Regions from separate parts of the Homo sapiens genome. Here region 1 is linked to region 2. Evidence: fine-mapped expression QTL. Tissue or cell type: fibroblasts. Region 2 holds a variant in brackets; the other region holds the start of a gene. All regions are shown on one strand. Distances are between the middles of the regions.

Region 1 (8,681 bases), 19 kb after region 2:
GGCTACCTCATTGAGGGGTGTGCAGCAGAGGTAAGCTGAGCCCCTGGGAGGCCTCAGTCTACCTGGAGCAGACCTCTAGAGAAATTGAGGAAGCCCGGGGGAAATTCTGTGATTTTCACTTACGCAAGGACATCCCTCCAGAAACTGTCCCCTCTGCCTCCTGCATCGTTGATTTTCCCTTCTCAGTCGGACCATTTTCACCAACATGAAACATGCTGTGACTTCTGCCATCCTTAAAGAACAAACTAACCTCTTGGTCTCACATCCATCCTCTTGCAGCTGTAATCCTGCTCCCTTTTTTTCTTTTTTTTTTGAGACGGAGTCTTACTCTGTCGCCCCAGGCTGGAGTGCAGTGGCACTATCTCGGCTCACTGCAAGCTCCGCCTCCCGGGTTCACGCCATTCTCCCACCTCAGCCTCCTGAGTAGCTGGGACTACAGGCACCCGCCACCATGCCTGGCTAATTTTTTCTATTTTTTAGTAGAGAAGGGGTTTCACCGTGTTAGCCAGGATGGTCTCGATCTCCTGACCTCGTGATCCGCCCACCTCGGCCTCCCAAAGTGCTGGGATTACAGGCATGAGCCACTGTGCCCGGCCAATCCTGCTCCCTTTCGAAGCAAAACTCCTCCAAAGAGTGGTCTGCTCTGGAGTTAACAAGTCCTCTCCTCTGGCCTCTCTTAAGGATGGAGACTGAGTTAGCAAGTCCTCTCCTCTGGCCCCTCTTAAGGATGGAGACTACCCCAGACAGGCTCCCACCAGGGCCCTGAAGCTGTTCTTGTCAAGGTCACAGTGACCCATGTTGCTAAACCCAGTGGCCATTTCTCAGTCTTCATTTTACTTGACCTCTCAGTGGCACTGGCCACAGCTCTCCCTCCTCCTGGAAACACCTTCCCCTGCAGATGCCCAGGTCCTCAGCCCTGCCTGGCTGTCCTCTCACTCTCTGGCCACTCCTCAGTCTTCTCTGCTGATTTCCTCCCCATCTCCCTGACCTGTTAGCCCTAGGATTCAGTTCTCAGCCCTCTTCCCTGTCTACAGCTTACCCTTGATCTCATCCAATCCCATGTCATCAAATACCATCTATATACAGATGGCTTCTAAATTTACATCTTCAGACATCAGTCCCAAACTTGCATATTTAACTACATACTTGACATTTTGACTTGTGTTTCTAACAGTCATCTCAAATGGATCAAGTCCAAAGTTGGACCCCCGTCCCTCCTTCAGTCTTCCCCACTTCAATTAAGAGCAACTTTAGCTTTTCCATTTCCTCGGGAGTCATTTTTGACTCCGGTCTTCCTCTCGTGCTCTACAGCCAATCTATCAGCAGATCCCATTGGTTGTGCTTTCAAAATATACCTAGAATTTAAACCCAGGTTGTCTCACAATGGAGCCACTGGTTTCTAACCACTCCCCCTCCCCCGACTTATGCTGAAATTGCCTTCTCCACACCCACCAGCACCACAGAACTGCAGAGCTGGCTGGCTCGCCAGGCCTGTTCCTAAACTTTGACATTGTGAACTGACGCATGTTCCTTCCTGTCATCTTCCCCACAGAACCCCTCTATCCCAGGAGTGCTTTACTCTGGGTCCCTGGGCTTCCCTAGGGGGTTGCTAAGTCCTCTGAAGTAATGTGGGAGAAGAATCCTGGGTGGATGTGCATTTTTCTGGGGAGAAGGCTGACAGCTTTCATCAGATCTTCAGGAGGATCTGCGAGTCCCTCCAAAAAGACTGAGAGCCACCTGACTCCTTCGTTCCTCCTTGATCAGTACTTAACACTTTACATAGACATTCATGCATGTTCTCCAGATGTCCTTTATTTATATTCGTATTCATAAGTTCTCATACTACTTCTGGTCTTTTTAGTAGCTCTTTTAGGGCTGTAGCCACAGAACGGTCATTCTAGTGATTCTGAGCAGGGTGGAGAGGAGTGCAGCATCCCTGGGCGGGTGGGTCAGTGAAGACACGCCCAGCTCACCTGATATTCTGTGACTGGTTGCAGAACACAAGTCCCTCTCGAAATTGTTTAGGTTTGTGGGGAGATATCTGTAAGACAGAGTGAGAAAGCCTTATGGAAAAGGCCAAGAAGTGCTCAGCAGGCCTAGCAGAACGCTCAGGAATCCCACCCACACCATCCCTCATTTCTGGGTCTTTCTTCCTGGACATCTCAGGCCTCAGACCTGCATCCAGGAGCTGGAGCACCGCAGTGCTTCTGAACGCCTCTTCCAGTGGCACCTGCGGGCCTAGTGTCCCCACACCCGCTTGGGTGACAGAGGCCAATCAGTTGTCAAGCTTATGACTTCCAATCAGAGTGGTGGGGCCCTGAAATGACTTGCTCTTTGGGTCACTGTATGTAAAGCAATTTGCAGCTAGCGGCACTGGGCGGGTGACCCTGCCTGAGCCCAGTGAGGAGCAGGTCGTCTGCCTGCGGTGCTTCCAGGACCTGTTTGGAGACGACCACAATAAGAACGGGTTCAAAATGTTCGACTCCTCCAACTATCATGGCCAAGACCTGCTTTTCAAGGATGCCACCGTCCGGGCGGTGCCTGTCGGAGAGAAAACCACCTACCGCGGCTGGCTGGGGCTGGACTACGTGGCGGCGCTGGAAGGGATGTCGTCTCAGCAGTGCTCGGGCGCAGGTAGGACAGGCCCGCCCTGCCGCCTCCCCTGGTGCTATTCAGACCCCTTCACCCCAGAACCCTGAGGGAGCGGGGGGCGCTGCGGGTCCGGGGAGGCGGGTGGAGGCCCGTTCGCAGCAGTCCAGGTGGGGTGTCCCGGGAGGATTTTGGCCAGGAGGCTGCGGGCCGGGAGGGCGGGAGCCCGGCGGGTCTCCCAGACGGACCTGGGTAATGAGTGTGAACGCTCAAAACGGCGGCGCGGGGAGGATCTGGGGCCACGGCAGAGACATGCGTGTGCTGCCTTTCTGGAAAGAGCGCATCTGGAAGGGCAGCAGGGGAAAGGAGCACAAAGAGGGAGGCTGCGGCGAGTTCGGTCCCGAAAGATGCCCCCACCCCCACCCCAGAGCGGGCGCCTGAGGCGGCCACCGCGGCCCGGGCTTCGGGGCCTGACCCGCCGCGTTCGTCCCCAGCGGCCCCGGCGCCCGGGGCGCCCCTGCTCCCGCTGCTGCTGCCCGCCCTCGCCGCCCGCCTGCTCCCGCCCGCCCTCTGAGCCCGGCCGCCCCGCCCCAGAGCTCCGATGCCCGCCCGGGGAGTTTCCGCGGCGGCTTCGCGCTGGAATCCAGAAGGAAGCTCGCGAAGGCCGGGCCCGGCGTGGGCGGGAGCAGGCGCCTCCCCGGGAGCCCCGCCGCCCACGGGCGCCACCTGGCGCTGCTACCTGAGGCGCCGCCCCCGGGCCCGCGCGGCCCTTCCCGCCAACCGCCGCCTCCCGCCACCTGGAGCCGCGCGGGCCGCGCCGGAGGAGGCCGGTTGCCCAGGAAACCGCTGAGTCCGGGCTTCCCGCCGCCCGCCCCGCGGTGTCGCCCGAGGGGCCCGCCCGCCTCCTCCCCGCAGCCCCGCGCCCCCGTCCGCGAGGCCCCCTGGGGACGCGGTGGCCGCCGAGGCGCCTACACCCGCAGGCCGCGGCCAGGCCGTCCCAGGAGGCCCCGGCGCCAACGGGACCCGGCGCGTGGGACAGCGGCCTCTGCTGGCGGCGGCGGGAGGGAGGCCGGACCGGGGCGACGGGGAGAAGCCTTCGCCCGCGGGACCGTGTCCGGGGTGGGGGCTCCAGTTCCTCCGACCGCCCGTGCGCTGGGAGGGAGGCCGAGCCCGGGGAACGCCGCGTGCCCTGCCTCGTCCCCCACTGTGGCCGCGCCAGCTCCATCCCGGGCCAGCCGCGTCCACGGGCCCCCTCCCGAGTCTCCTCAGGCTCTCGCCTCCCCTACCCCCGTGGGATGCCCACCGCCCGCACCCACGCCCGAGCCTGGCGGCAGCAGCCGCCCCCCGCCTGAAGGGAGCCGGAGGTGACCCAGGCCGCGGGCTCCCGAGGCCCCTGAAGGGCTGCGCGTGGGGACCCGCCATGCTTCTGGGTTCCGAACGGGGGTGAGCTCCGTCTCCTCACCCGGCCCCGCACCCGCTGGGCCTGGGGACCCCTCACTCCCCGTGCCCGCCCCTCCGCGAGGCAGCAGAAAGCGCCCGGCCGGGGCCTCTCTCTACTCCATCTTGCCACAGTTGTCTGAGAAGCCAGAAAAAGTTTCCAGAACTGGCAGCCCTTAAAAAAAATGAAGAGGAAGAGAAGAAATGGGAGCAGGCAGCCCTCGTCAGCAGACCGGGAGCCGCGTGGGCGCGGAGCCATTTGCATTCCGGTCTGCGGGGGCTCGGGGATGCTGGTGACAGGCCCGGTTCCCGGTGGCTCGCCCCCACCTGCGGGCGTCGGGAAGGATCCCTTCCATCTCTCAGCCGCAGAGGAGGCCCTGGCAGCGCCCCGGCTGTAGCCATGCAACCCCGAGGAGTCCCGGGCACCTTCACCCCACCGGGAGGGGCCACAAGGACCTGGGCCTCGGCCACCAAGCTTTGTCCCCTCTCGCTGTGGGGGGCTAGTGATTCTCCTCCGACCTGACGATTGCTTGGTTTTTTCAAAAGGGAGTTTTGTGCGGTGAGAAGTGTGTTTCTGTGTGGCTAACTCTGGGCTAGCGTGCCGTGGCCATTGAAGGTGTGGCCTGCGTGGGTGCAGTGTAAGTGACGCTGGATTGTCAGGTGGCAGCAGGGGACCCCTGCTGTGTCAGTGCTAATGAAACATGTTGGTTGGTTTCTAAAATAAAGCCAAACAAGCCAGCACATGCAGAGGCTTGGACCCTGATAGAAACTTCTGCTGCCGATTTCTTTCGTTTTGTTAGGCACTCAAAGGCCTACCTGCTCCACCGAGAAGGGCAGATTCCATTCTCCAAGAGCCAGTCAGGGACCACTCTCATCCTCTAGTCAGTGAGGCCCCCCGCGCCCTTCTTCGACCTGGACTGGTTCTCTGGCTCTTGCAGGGCCTCCGCTGCCCTGGCACATTCCAGCTGCCTCCACCCCATCAGGCTCTGGGGTGTCTGCCCTTCTGTGGATGGGTGCAGAGAAGGGTGCAAACTTCTCTGCTGCCCCCTGCCCCACACCTCCAAAATAAGCGGCCCACATCTTTTCTCTGGCAAGCTCGCTGCTAACTCACTGGAGGGGGGCGTGGGGAGCGGATCTCCCAGAGACCCTACAGTGGGTGCTCTGTGGTATCTACTGAGGTGGGGGTGGGCCCGGCTGGTCTTCATCAGTGCTCTGCTCTCCCTCTGGAAGGGGAGGTTTTCTCTGCTTCCCTCTCTCATGGCTTCACTTGGCCCCCACACCACCACCCCTCGCCGCTGTGGCCATCTCCCAGAGCCAGGTCTTGCCCACCACTGCACACAGGCCATTTTCCATGAAGTCGGCTCAGTTATCACAAAGCCAGTCAATTCCTGGGGACCTGGATGGCCAGAGTTGACCGACTTTGTCTCTGCATCACATGGACGAGTCTCAGCTGCACAGTCACTCCAGCTCGCCTCATGCTACCACTTCCCTACCCTGAACTTCTGGAAAGGAAAGTTAACCTTTGGGCACCCTAGCCCCTCATCTGAAAAACACACAGTACGATCACCAGCTTGGTGAGGTGGTTGTGAAGATCCAGTCTAAGATGCAAAACACTCAGCACAGTGCTTGGCACACGGCATAGAGACTAAGACACAAAACACTGCACAGTGCTTGGCACACGGCATAGAGTCTAAGACACAAAACACTCAGCACAGTGCTTGGCACACGGCATAGAGTCTAAGACACAAAACACTCAGCACAGTGCTTGGCACACGGCATAGAGTCTAAGACACAAAACACTCAGCACAGTGCTTGGCACACGGCATAGAGTCTAAGACACAAAACACTCAGCACAGTGCTTGGCACATGGCATAGAGTCTAAGACACAAAACACTCAGCACAGTGCTTGGCACACGGTGGGTGCAGGAAGGATGTTCACTGTCACTACTGCTATTACTCCAGAGCCTGTTTTCTTGTCTTCAATTTGGAATTCCTGGGAGAGATCATCTGATTGGCCCAGTGTGCGTCAGGCATCTACCACTGGACCAGTCAGCACAGGCCAGAAGCAGGGTGTATAGCGGACACATGGCCACCGAGGCCCCAGAAAAAGGAAATGAAATCCTTGTGAGTCAGGCAGCCATGCCCCAGCACCCCCATGGCTACCAGGCCTGTTGTAGGGCTATTGGCCATTTGTTGAGCAAATACTTACTGATACCTACTTGTCAGTACCACCCCTAGACCTAGGCAAGAGGGATTCTAGTCCTCGGTTTTGTGCTTTCAAGCAGTGCTTTTCAGACCTTGATGTGCACATTAACTGCCTGGGGATCTTGTTAAAATGTAGACTCTGGTTCAGAAGGGCCAGCATGAGACTGAGAGTCTGCAGTTCAGACCAGCTCCCAGGTGGTGCCTGTGCTGGTGGTCCAGGGACCACACTTTGAGAAGCAAGCCTTCAGAGGCCTCCCCCAGACCACACCCCACACCCCACCCACAGAGGGAGCAATCACAGGGAAAAGGGATGCGTTCACTCAGGGGTCATCTTTTCTTTTTTTGAAACGGAGTCTTGCTCTGTTGCCCAAGCTGGAGTTCAGTGGCACAATCTTAGCTCACTGCAACCTCCGCCTTCCGGGTTCAAGTGATTCTCCTGCCTCAGCCTCTCAAGTAGCTGGAAATACAAGCGCCCACCACCACACATGGCTACTCTTTGTATTTTTCATAGAGATGGGGTTTCACCATGTTGGCCAGGATGGTCTCGAACTCCTGACCTCGTGATCCGCCCACCTCGGCCTCCCAAAGGCCTCCCAAAGGGATTACAGGCATGAGCCACCGCACCTGGCCCCAGAGCCCATTTTTCACACCATGTTCCAGATACCTGGGATCCTGGACTTTATACCTCAAACAGCCCTGAGCCAGCTTCCAGGGTCTGGAGGGCCCCTTACCTAGATCCTGCCTCCCAAGGTGGCCAAAGCTCTCGCAGGAGGTGTAGTTGAGCGTGATGAGCAGGCTGCCGTGTCCTCTGCAATGCGCAAGGCCCTCGAAGCGTGGGTTGCAGCCTGGATGGGAAGAGAGCGGGTGGGCTATGGCGGGGAAGCCTGTTCTGTCCGCAGCTCCTATTCTAGGCTGCTGAGTCTTTATAAAGGTTTGTTTGTCAAAGTAGGAGGACAGGACACATTCTCTTTAATAGCTTGTTAGCTTGATTTGTAACATTTAATGTGGAGCCACATGGTAGGCGGGCCTCTGTTGGTACTCTTGTCCTAGGCCCCACAAGTGCTTGGGGTCGGCCAGCCTGCTGTGTGCACAGCCCTGTGCTCAGCGCTCTGGAAGGTACAAAGAAGTAAGTACACGGCCTACTAGCCCTGCCCCCCTTGGTCTCATTTGGAGAGGCCACCGAGGTGGTGTGGTAGAAGAACACTGCTGTGCAGGAGGGACAGTGACAGGATAGACAGGGCCTTGTGGCCCACACGGCACAAGCCGTCACCCCCAGCTTCAGACTCCTCCCCAGGTGTTCTTGACTGTTTACAATGAGGATGTGTTCCTCAGGACAACATTCTTGAAAAAGATTCACACAACATTTACAATAGGTATAAATGCTACAATTTTTTAAAAAGATATATTAATTAGGCTGGGTGTGGTGGCTCACCGCTGTCAACCCAGCCCTTTGGGAGGCTGAGGTGGAAGAATCGCTTGAGCCCAGGAATTTAAGACCAGTCTGGGCAACATAGTGAGACCCCATCTCTACAAACAATTTTTAAAAAAATTAGCCCAGTGTGGTGGCCCACACCTGTACCTCCAGCTACTTGGGAGGCTGAGGTGGGAGGATCACTTGTGCCTGGGAGGTGGAGGTTCCGGTGAGCCGTGATGGTGCCACTGCACTCCAGACCAGACCCTGCCTCAAAAAAAAAGATATTCCAATTTTGTGGAATAAAAACCAGCTCACTCACCTAAGATTCAGGAAACTTGAATTCTCATTCCACTTTGGTATTCACCCTGGGCCAATACTTTCTCCTCTCCCCATCTCAGTTCCCAAATCTATAAACTGAGAAGCGGGTATGGGGCCTCGACGATTTCTAGCTCTAACAGTAATTCTTAGACTAAAACACATCTGAGTCTTCACGGGGTTGTTGCCTGTGCTGAAGTGAGAGGGGCCGGGTGGGCTCTTTTTGTTTCTGCCTTTCTCAGCTGCCTCTGCGTTGGTGCTAACAAGCCAGAAGCTGGGTTTCACAGCGGAGAGTCATATACGTCAAAGCTTCTCGCCTTGAGCGTATGTGAGGATCACCTGAGGGTTTATTAAAACATAGACTGCGAAGCTGGGTGCAATGGTGTATGCCTGTAGTCCCAGCTACTTGGAGGTTGAGGCAGGAGGATTGCTTGAGCCCAGGAGTTGAGGCCAGCCTGGGCAACATAGTGAGACTCCCATCTCTAAAAATGTATATATTGGCCAGGCATGGTGGTTCACGCCTGTAATCCCAGAACTTTGGGAAGCTGAGATGTGAGGATTGCTTGAGGCCAGTAGTTCAAGACCAGCCTGGGCAACATAGGCCCAACCTCTACACACACACACACACACACACACAGACACAAAAGTGTTTTTAATTAGCCAGGCGTGGTGGTGTTTGCCTGTGATCCCAGCTACTCGGGAGGCTGACAGGGGAGGATTG
Region 2 (8,681 bases):
GTCCAGAGGATTGGTAAGAAACAAGGCGGGTGAGTCAGAGGATGGTACCAGACGGAGCTACTCAGGTTGGCGGGGGCCAGACCCTGGTGTGCAAGAAGTAACACTGGCTTTATGTTCTAGAACTCAACTTCATTCTGATATGGCCTCCCACACCACCGGGCAGTTTGTGCACGCGTGCATGCCTGCGTGTGTGCGCCCGTGCGATGGGAGACCCTCTGGGCATCAGTTCCCACAGCTGAGTCTGTGTTTTGCCTGAGCAGCCCCTTGGAGCCACCTTGGCACAGGGGAACGCTTTGCAAGGCTGCAGAGCCCTGGCCCCACCACACACACCCTGCAGCATTCAGGGTCGTGAGCGACTTGGGGCCACATCGCTAGTTCTCTCTGTCTCTGCCTCTGTCTCACTCTCCTTCAACCCCCTCAGCACCAGGAAATCGCCGCTCCTCATCTGGGGAAGCCCCTCCTCGGCTCCCCTGCTCCTCCCAGACACCCTTCTTCCCATGACCCTGACACCATTCCCCCAAACCCTCCAAGTTCTCCTAGGGGCCTAGGCTCTTGGAAAGCAAGGACTTGCTGGCTTCTGCTTTCTGTCCAGCTAAATAACTCCCCTGATGTGAGCAAATGTGGACCCAGCTAAGCACCAGCTGCTGGGGAAGGAAGAGGGGGAAATCAATGAATACATCAATATCTCAGGATCGTCTCTACCTCAAGAGGCTAGAGGGCAGGGCCTCTTAATACATGCAGATGAAGCCCACTTGCTCTCTTGGTAACGAGAACGCTATGCACACATCCGTGTGTACAGCCGTGCTCCGTGCACACACCTCTCCCACAGCCCGCCCAGGCAGGGTGCTGGTGCAGCCTCTCTCGAGGCCTCTCCCTGCTGCCCTCACCCACTCCCCTCCCCTCCTAGAGGTCGGTACCTCCTATTACGCCGTGGCTGTGGTCAGGAGGAGCTCCCATGTGACCATTGACACCCTGAAAGGCGTGAAGTCCTGCCACACGGGCATCAATCGCACAGTGGGCTGGAACGTGCCCGTGGGCTACCTGGTGGAGAGCGGCCGCCTCTCGGTGATGGGCTGCGATGTACTCAAAGGTGAGGGCTTTGGGCTGGGCAGGAGGGTCCCCAGGCCTCCCCCTCCTTTCCTTGGCCCATGCTCGTCCCTTCACTGGGTAGCCTCCCTCCGGCCTCGCCACCATTCTTCATTCCTGGAAGGCGCAGCAGCCCCCGCCCGCCCCGTGCCTCCCCCGCCTCCACTCTGCCGCCGGCGCCGCCGCTTGACTTCCTGCTTGCTTGGACCCTGTGGGGCGCGATTCTTGCTCACGCATCGTGGTGTCCCACATGGCACAGCCAGGCACAGGCCCAGCCCATGAGTGGGAAGCAGTGAATCTCCCAGGAGTGCTTCCCACCAGTATAGACCGGGCGCAGGTCACTGTGTCTAGAAATGTGTCCTCGGCTTTACAGGACCAGAAATGCTATTTTTTCAGGACCCAAACGAGGTGCCGACTTGCACCCAGAAAGCTCCCAAGTGGCTCATCAGCCCAACCAGCCGTGTAAACCCGCGAGAGCCTGGAAGCCTCACCCTCTCAGCTGGTGGCCAGGTGTGAGTGGCTCACCAGGCACTTGGCATATTTATTAAATATCTACTCCTCTGGGAGGTCACAAAAAAAAAACCAGGAAGAGGGCTTACTCTGGAAAAGCTCAGTCTGGCTGGCGATGAGCGTGGCCCGACTGGCTCAGGTGCCAGCAGCAGGGCCTCCTCGCGCGGCACAGGATAAATACTTGTGGGTTTTGGTGCTGGCAGGGCCGGAAGAACCATGCAGGGCGGCAGACCCTGACCTCGTCCCCCGTGAGGCTGGCCGCCGGGCGTGTGCCTCCCTCCCTGTGCCGTGAGAAGGGTTGTCTACCCATCAGTGATCTTCAATAATTCTTTATTTCCCCTCTGTCATCAGTCACAGTTGGCTGAGCTGGAAATGAAACCCACAGTGAGAAGAGCATCTGGCTGATACTGAGTTATCCCACGTGGTCATTTAGGAGGAAATGTTTAGTTCCCCCGAACCATTTTTAAATGACAGTCGCTCCCAGTGCTGTCTGCTGCCTTGGTGGACCCGGTTTGGGGGTCACTGATCGGGTCCACTCCCCAGCTTTGCTCAGACTGAAGCTGGAAGGTGGAACCATTCTCAGCAGAGTCCAGATGAGAGCCCGGGCCCCCTGCTGACCCTGGGGGCTTGGCTTGGCTCTGAAGAAAGTTCTGCTGAGTGACCTCTCTACCTCCTTCCCACAGCTGTCAGCGACTATTTTGGGGGCAGCTGCGTCCCGGGGGCAGGAGAGACCAGTTACTCTGAGTCCCTCTGTCGCCTCTGCAGGGGTGACAGCTCTGGGGAAGGGGTGTGTGACAAGAGCCCCCTGGAGAGATACTACGACTACAGCGGGGCCTTCCGGTGAGCGGAGTGGGGGCAGGGAGGGGCCGAGGGCAGGGAGGAGCTGAGGCCACAAATGCTGGGGAAAAACACCTTTGCCCAGAGAGGGCCGTGGAGGGGGAAGTGGCATGTTGGCTGCGTCTCATCAAAGCACCCTTTATATAGTTCTGTGCCCTGGTTAGTTTAAAAACATCCAGCTGGAATATGCCAAACCGGATTTGCTCATGAAATCAACGTGTTTGGTATATTTAGTGAGGTGAGGGCTCCAAGAGAAGAAAATGGAAAAAACAGCCTTTTGGCCACTCCCATGTCCCCATTCTCAGACCAGCAGGGAGCGGGGTCAGGGGAGTGTGTCTGGACACCTGGGGCCGGCCCGTCTCTGCTGCTGGTTGCGGCTGGCACCTTGGGTAACCCTTCCGTGGATGCAGGAGACTCTAACAGCTCGTGGTCCAATTCCATCTGCCTGCAGAGGAGGAAATGTGCTCAGCAGGATTGGAAAGGAAGCTTCTCGGGCCCCTCTAGCTACCTCACGTTTCCACCTGGAGCAGGGAAGCCTGCTGGTGCCCCACACTCCAGATGTTATCTGACTGGATGCGGTTTTCGGCTTAGAGAGAAGAAACAGTCCTCAGCACCCCTGAGCGGGACAGCCTTGCCCCTCCACTCCCCGTGTCCTTGGCCATGCACACATTCTCTCTGGCTCTCTTGGAGCCTCAGAGCCCTCTCCTGATGTCGCCCGCCCCGATCTGCTCTAATCCCTGTGCATTTTCTGCCCGTGGGGACCCAAGCAGACCCTTTGCCCAGGAGGTCTGACCTGCCTCCAACACTGGGCAGTGACATCAGCAGATCGTGTAAAAGTCAATGGTCCCTTCCACTGAGGATTCTGCGGCATGGCATGAAAAGGCCTTCTAGTCCAATCCCCTGCCTCAGGGTAGAATGCTCTTCAAAACACCCTGAAAATTAGCCCAGCATGGTGGCACACACCTGTCACCCCAGCTACTTTGGAGGCAGAGGCAGGATGATCACTTGAGCCCAAGAGGTCAAAGCTGCCATGAGCTATGATTGCGCCACTGCACTCCAGCCTGGGCGACACAGTGAGACCCTATCTCTAAAAACAAAACAACGAAAACAAACACACAGAAAACCGACGCCCTGAGAGTCAAGGCTGCTGATATTATAATAGCAGCTGCCCTGGGAGTGCCTGCTCCCTACAGGCCTGAGCTAAGATGGAGAGGGTCCATACTGGATTATAAGGAGCCTCTCATCCTCAGAGCAGCCCTGTGGGAGCTACTTTCCCACCCCCGCTTTACAGATGATAGGGGCTAGGAAGGGGCCACAACTCGGCAAAGGCACACAGCCGACCAGCCAGGGAGCTGGAACCCAGACCACACAACTGGAAAGCCCATGCCCATCATGGCCACCCCTACAGCCCAAGCCAGGCCTCCAGAGGTGGAAGATGGGCAGGGGCAGGGGCTCAGCCCATCCAGACCCACAGCTTCTCCTCCGCAGGTGCCTGGCGGAAGGGGCAGGGGACGTGGCTTTTGTGAAGCACAGCACGGTACTGGAGAACACGGATGGTGAGTGGGGGAGGGGCACGGGCCCAGAGGAGCAGGGAGTCAGGCCAGGCCGGCTTGGGGCAGGGACCCTAGATGGCAGAGTTGGGATCAAACGCCCTAGTGCAGTGCTGCTCTGAGTCTCTGGGTGACCTTGGACAAGTCCCACAGTCTCCGAGCCTCAGCACTCCCAGCTGCAAAAGAGCAGAGGCAGGTGTCACCAGTGGAGTGCCCACTGCCCACAGGGCAGGAGAAGGGGGCCAGCGAGCAGCTCTGCTCTGCTTTGATTTGAATATGGCATTGGGTTCTGGTTCCACCTGAAGATGAGGGTCTGATTTTTTAAGCAATTTGCAAACCCCTGCACTGGATCTCACCTACCAGCCCTTCCTGGCATTTTTCTCCTCTTGCCTGGAGAATTTGTCCCTCATCCCTGGGAAGGTTTAAGATATAGTTTGGTGTTGAGGCTGGGCACGGTGGCTCATGCCTGTAATCCCAGCACTTTGGGAGGCCGAGGTGGGCGGATCACGAGGTCAGGAGAAGAGACCATCCTGGCCAACATGGTGAAATCCTATCTCTGCTAAAATACAAAAAACTAGCCGAGCGTGGTGGTGGGTGCCTCAAATCCCAGCTACTTGGGAGGCTGAGGCAGGGGAATTGCTTGAACCCAGGAGGCAGAGATTGCAGTGAGCCGAGATCACACCACTGCACTCCAGCCTGGTGACAGAGCGAGACTCTGTCTAAAAAACAACAACAAAAAAAAAACCCACAAAGACTGGTGTTATATATTGAGCCATCATGTCATTTAAGTTTTTTAATTTTGAAAGAACTGAGCTTTGGAAAACTTACAAGAATAACTCAAAGAGCTCCCTTCTATTCTTCACCCAAATTCTAACTGTTTAGCATTTTCCCACATTTTATTGTGTGTGTGTGTGTGTGTGCGTGTGTGTTCTGACCCATTTGAGAGTACATTTGCCTATGTCATACCCCTTGAATACTTT[G/A]GTATGTATCTCCTAAGACAAGGAGGTGTGTACCTAGCCACAGTAATCCAAATCAGGACACGCAACTTTGATACAATCCTGTTATCCAGTCTATAGCCGATATTGCAGATTCACTCACCGTCCCAATTCTGTCCTTCATGCCCATTTCTTGCAGACCAGGACCTAAACTCTTACCACGCATGGGGTTTAGTTGTTAGATCTCTTTACTTTCCTTTATCTTGGAACAGTTTCTCAGTCTTTGTTTTTATGACATTGGCATTTTGAAGCATCAGGCCGGTTATTTTATAGAATGTCCCTCAATTTAGATTTGCCTGAAGATTGTTTCTTTTTTTAAATTGAGATATAATTTACATGCAGCAAAATTTGTTCTTTTTGAAGGATAGTTCTATGAGTTTTGCCAAATACATGCAGTTGTATAACCACCACCACAATCGAGATCTTGATGGGGCAGACCCTTCAGCCCAGGAGTTCCTCAGGCCCCTGCTAGTTATCTCCCCGCACCTGCCAGCAAGCAGCAAACACACCGTTCTGTCTGCAGTTTTGCGTCTCCCAGGACGTCTGATGATTGGGTTTTTTTTTTAAATCATTGTCATTCTTTGCTGTTATTAACCATTGCCTTTTAAATCAGAAAGTCCATCACGAAGGCAAACATGGACCAGATCTGAGGAGGAAGAAGGCGAGTGCCCTGCACACGAGGAAGCACGTAGGACGATGCGCTCTAGTGCTGGGCAAGCCTGGAAATGGGCTCCCGTTCACAGGCCCCAGGACGAGTCTGACAAAGGAGAATTTGGAAAACGGGCAAAGAGTAGGGATATGTTGGGTTAAGAATCAGCTCTTTCAAACTTGGGGTTTTTTTTGAGATGGGGGTCTCACCATGTTGCCCAGGCTGGTCTCAAACCCCCAGCCTCAACTGATCCTCGCATCTCAGCCTCCTGAGTAGCTGGGATGACAGGCGTGCACCTGGCAGCTTTTTCAAAGTGTTGATGGTAATCTGAGGCAATCTAAGGGAGTCATTTTTTAAGTGACTTTATACAGAAAGATTGGTAAGAGCCAAGGGGTAGAAGTGGCATAAATGTCTAAAGCAGGGAAGTGACAGGACTTTCATTGTTCTTGGCTGAGGAGAAGCGGGAGTGGCTGATGGAAGCACCTAAATGATGCCTTTGTCTGTGGGAAGGCAAATGATGCCCCAGAGCTCTAACCAAAGGTTTTGCAGCCGCCGAAAAACAGGAAAGTTGGGAAGCGGGGGTAGGACTACACTGAATCATTAACAGTGCTGTAAACTACCATGTGGCCATTAACAATGACCTTTAGGGAGTTTTCCTAAACGATCACTCTGGTGCGGGTGTTTGGTTTTGTTTTAAAATAGCTTTGCAGTGAAAGCTTTCATGACCATACAAATTATCTTTTTTCTTCCTATTTCCTTGTAGAGGTTTTTTTCCTCCTTGTCTTAAGGTCATAAAAATATTGTTATGTGGGACCATCTGTGGTTTAATTATAGTCCTTAATATTCGTCTTCTCAATATCCCTGTTTGGTGTTAATAGTTACTCTTGCAAATTTTCTTTTCTATCGAGAAACAAATGAACTTATGGAAAGTTTCCAATACTGTGGAAAAATACTCTACCAAATAGGATGCAAAATTGCCTGTCAACTATGTCCTTAACCAGGTTAAAAGCGGTCAAAAGGAGGCTGGGCACGGTGCCTCACGCCTGTAATCCCAGCACTTTGGGAGGCCGAGGCTGGCAGATCATGAGGTCAGGGGTTCAAGACCGGCCTGGCCAACATGGTGAAACCCCATCTCTAGGAAAAATACAAAAATTAGCCAGGCATCTTGGTGCACACCTGTAATCTGAGCTACTCGGGAGGCTGAGGCAGAAGAATAACTTGAACCTGGGAGGCGGAGGTTGCAGTGAGCCAAGATCATGCCACTGCACTCCAGCCTGAGCGACAGAGTAAGACTCCATCTCAAAAAGAGAAAAAAGGCCAGGTGTGGAGGCTCACGCCTGTAATCCCAGCACTTTGGGAGGCCGAGGTGGGTGGATCACGAGGTCAGGAGATCAAGACCATCCTGGCTAACACAGTAAAACCCCATCTCTAATAAAAAAAAATACAAAAAATTAGCCGGGCGTGGTGGCGGGCACCTGTGGTCCCAGCTACTCGGGAGGCTGAGGCAGGAGAATGGCGTGAACCCGGAAGGTGGAGGTTGCAGTGAGCCGAGATCGTGCCACTGCACTCCAGCCTGGGCGAAAGGGCCAGACTCCGTCTCAAAAAGAAAAAGGGGGGGTGAGGTCAAAAGACAGGAAATAAAATAGAAAAAAGGACTTGAAAGAAATCCATCGCAATATGAATAGTTGGAGTTATGGGAGATCCCCCGTCCTCTCTAGTCCTGGGGTGGGTAGATTCCTTCGGGGTTTGTTTCCACCGTGGCCCCTGCTCCGGGAGCCCTGCCCCCTGCCCCCTGCTCAGAGCCAAACGCAGTGCCTCATGGCAGCCGCAAGCTCATCCTAGACTCTTGGTACATTCATCTGTCTCACCCAAAGCCTTTCTTTTTTTTTGAGACAGAGTTTCGCTCTGTCGCCCAGGCTGGAGTGCAGTGGCGTGATCTCGGCTCACTGCAAGCTCCGCCTCCCAGGTTCACACCATTCTCCTGCCTCAGCCTCCCCAGTAGCTGGGATTACAGGCGCCCGCCACCACGCCCAGCTAATTTTTTGTATTTTTAGTAGAGATGGGGTTTCACCGTGTTAGCCAGGATGGTCTTGATCTCCTGACCTCGTGATCCGCCCACCTCGGCCTCCCAAAGTGCTGGGATTACAGGCGTGAGCCACCACGCCCGGCCAGCCTTTCTTATTTTCTTACTTTTTTTATCTTGAATAGTTATTTATAAGTATTGTATTACTGTCAGATACCTCCAATTCACTTTAGCAATAGAAATTGGTGAGAGCTAGAAAATGAGAGTAACGAGATAGAGTCTGTGTAGGTACCTGGAGTTGGGTGCGGCCACCAAGCTCTGCCACCTTCTGAATGCTGGGTTCTCATGTCCATGACACCCAGCCACCCCTCAGATTCCCTCTCCTGGGCCTTCCCCGCCACCCGCCCCAACCCCTTTCGGAGCTGGCTCAGCCCAGGCTTCCTGCTTCCCAGGGAAGACGCTTCCCTCCTGGGGCCAGGCCCTGCTGTCACAGGACTTCGAGCTGCTGTGCCGGGATGGTAGCCGGGCCGATGTCACCGAGTGGAGGCAGTGCCATCTGGCCCGGGTGCCTGCTCACGCCGTGGTGGTCCGGGCCGACACAGATGGGGGCCTCATCTTCCGGCTGCTCAACGAAGGCCAGGTGGGCTCAGGGTCCCCCAACCACCTGCACAGCTTCCTAGATGGTGCCGGGCCTTGTGGTCGCTCAGCAGGGTGGGACCAGGAGGGGCAGGACCCAGAGACTGTCCTTGGGACGGACCCCAGCATCGGGCCAGGTCAGAGTGAGGAACCGACTATGCTGGCTGGCCAGAAGGAGGGCTGGCCAGGAGAGGGGGGCCCAGAGGAGGGGGACCCAGGGATTCAGGCACCCTCAGAAGAAGCTCCTGAGACTTGTGTCTCTGAGAGCTAAAACCAAAACATATGAGCAAATAAACCAAGTAACAAAACCAGCGCCTTTCAAAGCACACCATTAATTACATGTGGCGAATAAGGTTTGGCTAAAACCGCCGCTTGTGACAGCAATAGACTTCTGA

Evidence for each region. PIP is the estimated chance that this variant, and not a neighbour inherited with it, causes the effect.
Region 1: it holds the start of MELTF-AS1, and the variant in region 2 is fine-mapped to the expression of MELTF-AS1 in fibroblasts (GTEx, PIP above 0.99).

What each region holds. Positions count from the first base shown.
Region 1 is chr3:196,997,854-197,006,534 of GRCh38, reverse strand. It overlaps MELTF-AS1 (MELTF antisense RNA 1), which reads right to left and starts at 3,629. Exons shown (of 4, transcript NR_038285.1): 1 at 3,562-3,629; 2 at 2,565-2,933; 3 at 2,176-2,438; 4 at 1,791-2,041. MELTF (melanotransferrin) reads left to right here. Exons shown (of 16, transcript NM_005929.6): 15 at 2,436-2,634; 16 at 3,084-4,795. The coding sequence ends at 3,163. It also overlaps the pseudogene RPSAP30. RefSeq lists silencers at 2,671-3,070, 3,111-3,900, 4,051-4,130.
Region 2 is chr3:197,016,712-197,025,392 of GRCh38, reverse strand. It overlaps MELTF (melanotransferrin), which reads left to right. Exons shown (of 16, transcript NM_005929.6): 4 at 908-1,090; 5 at 2,280-2,436; 6 at 3,922-3,989; 7 at 8,103-8,290. Among named protein-coding and RNA genes, the nearest start is that of MELTF, 8.8 kb to the left of the region's middle. RefSeq lists an enhancer at 2,610-2,659. The variant G/A (reference allele first, on the strand shown) is at 4,964.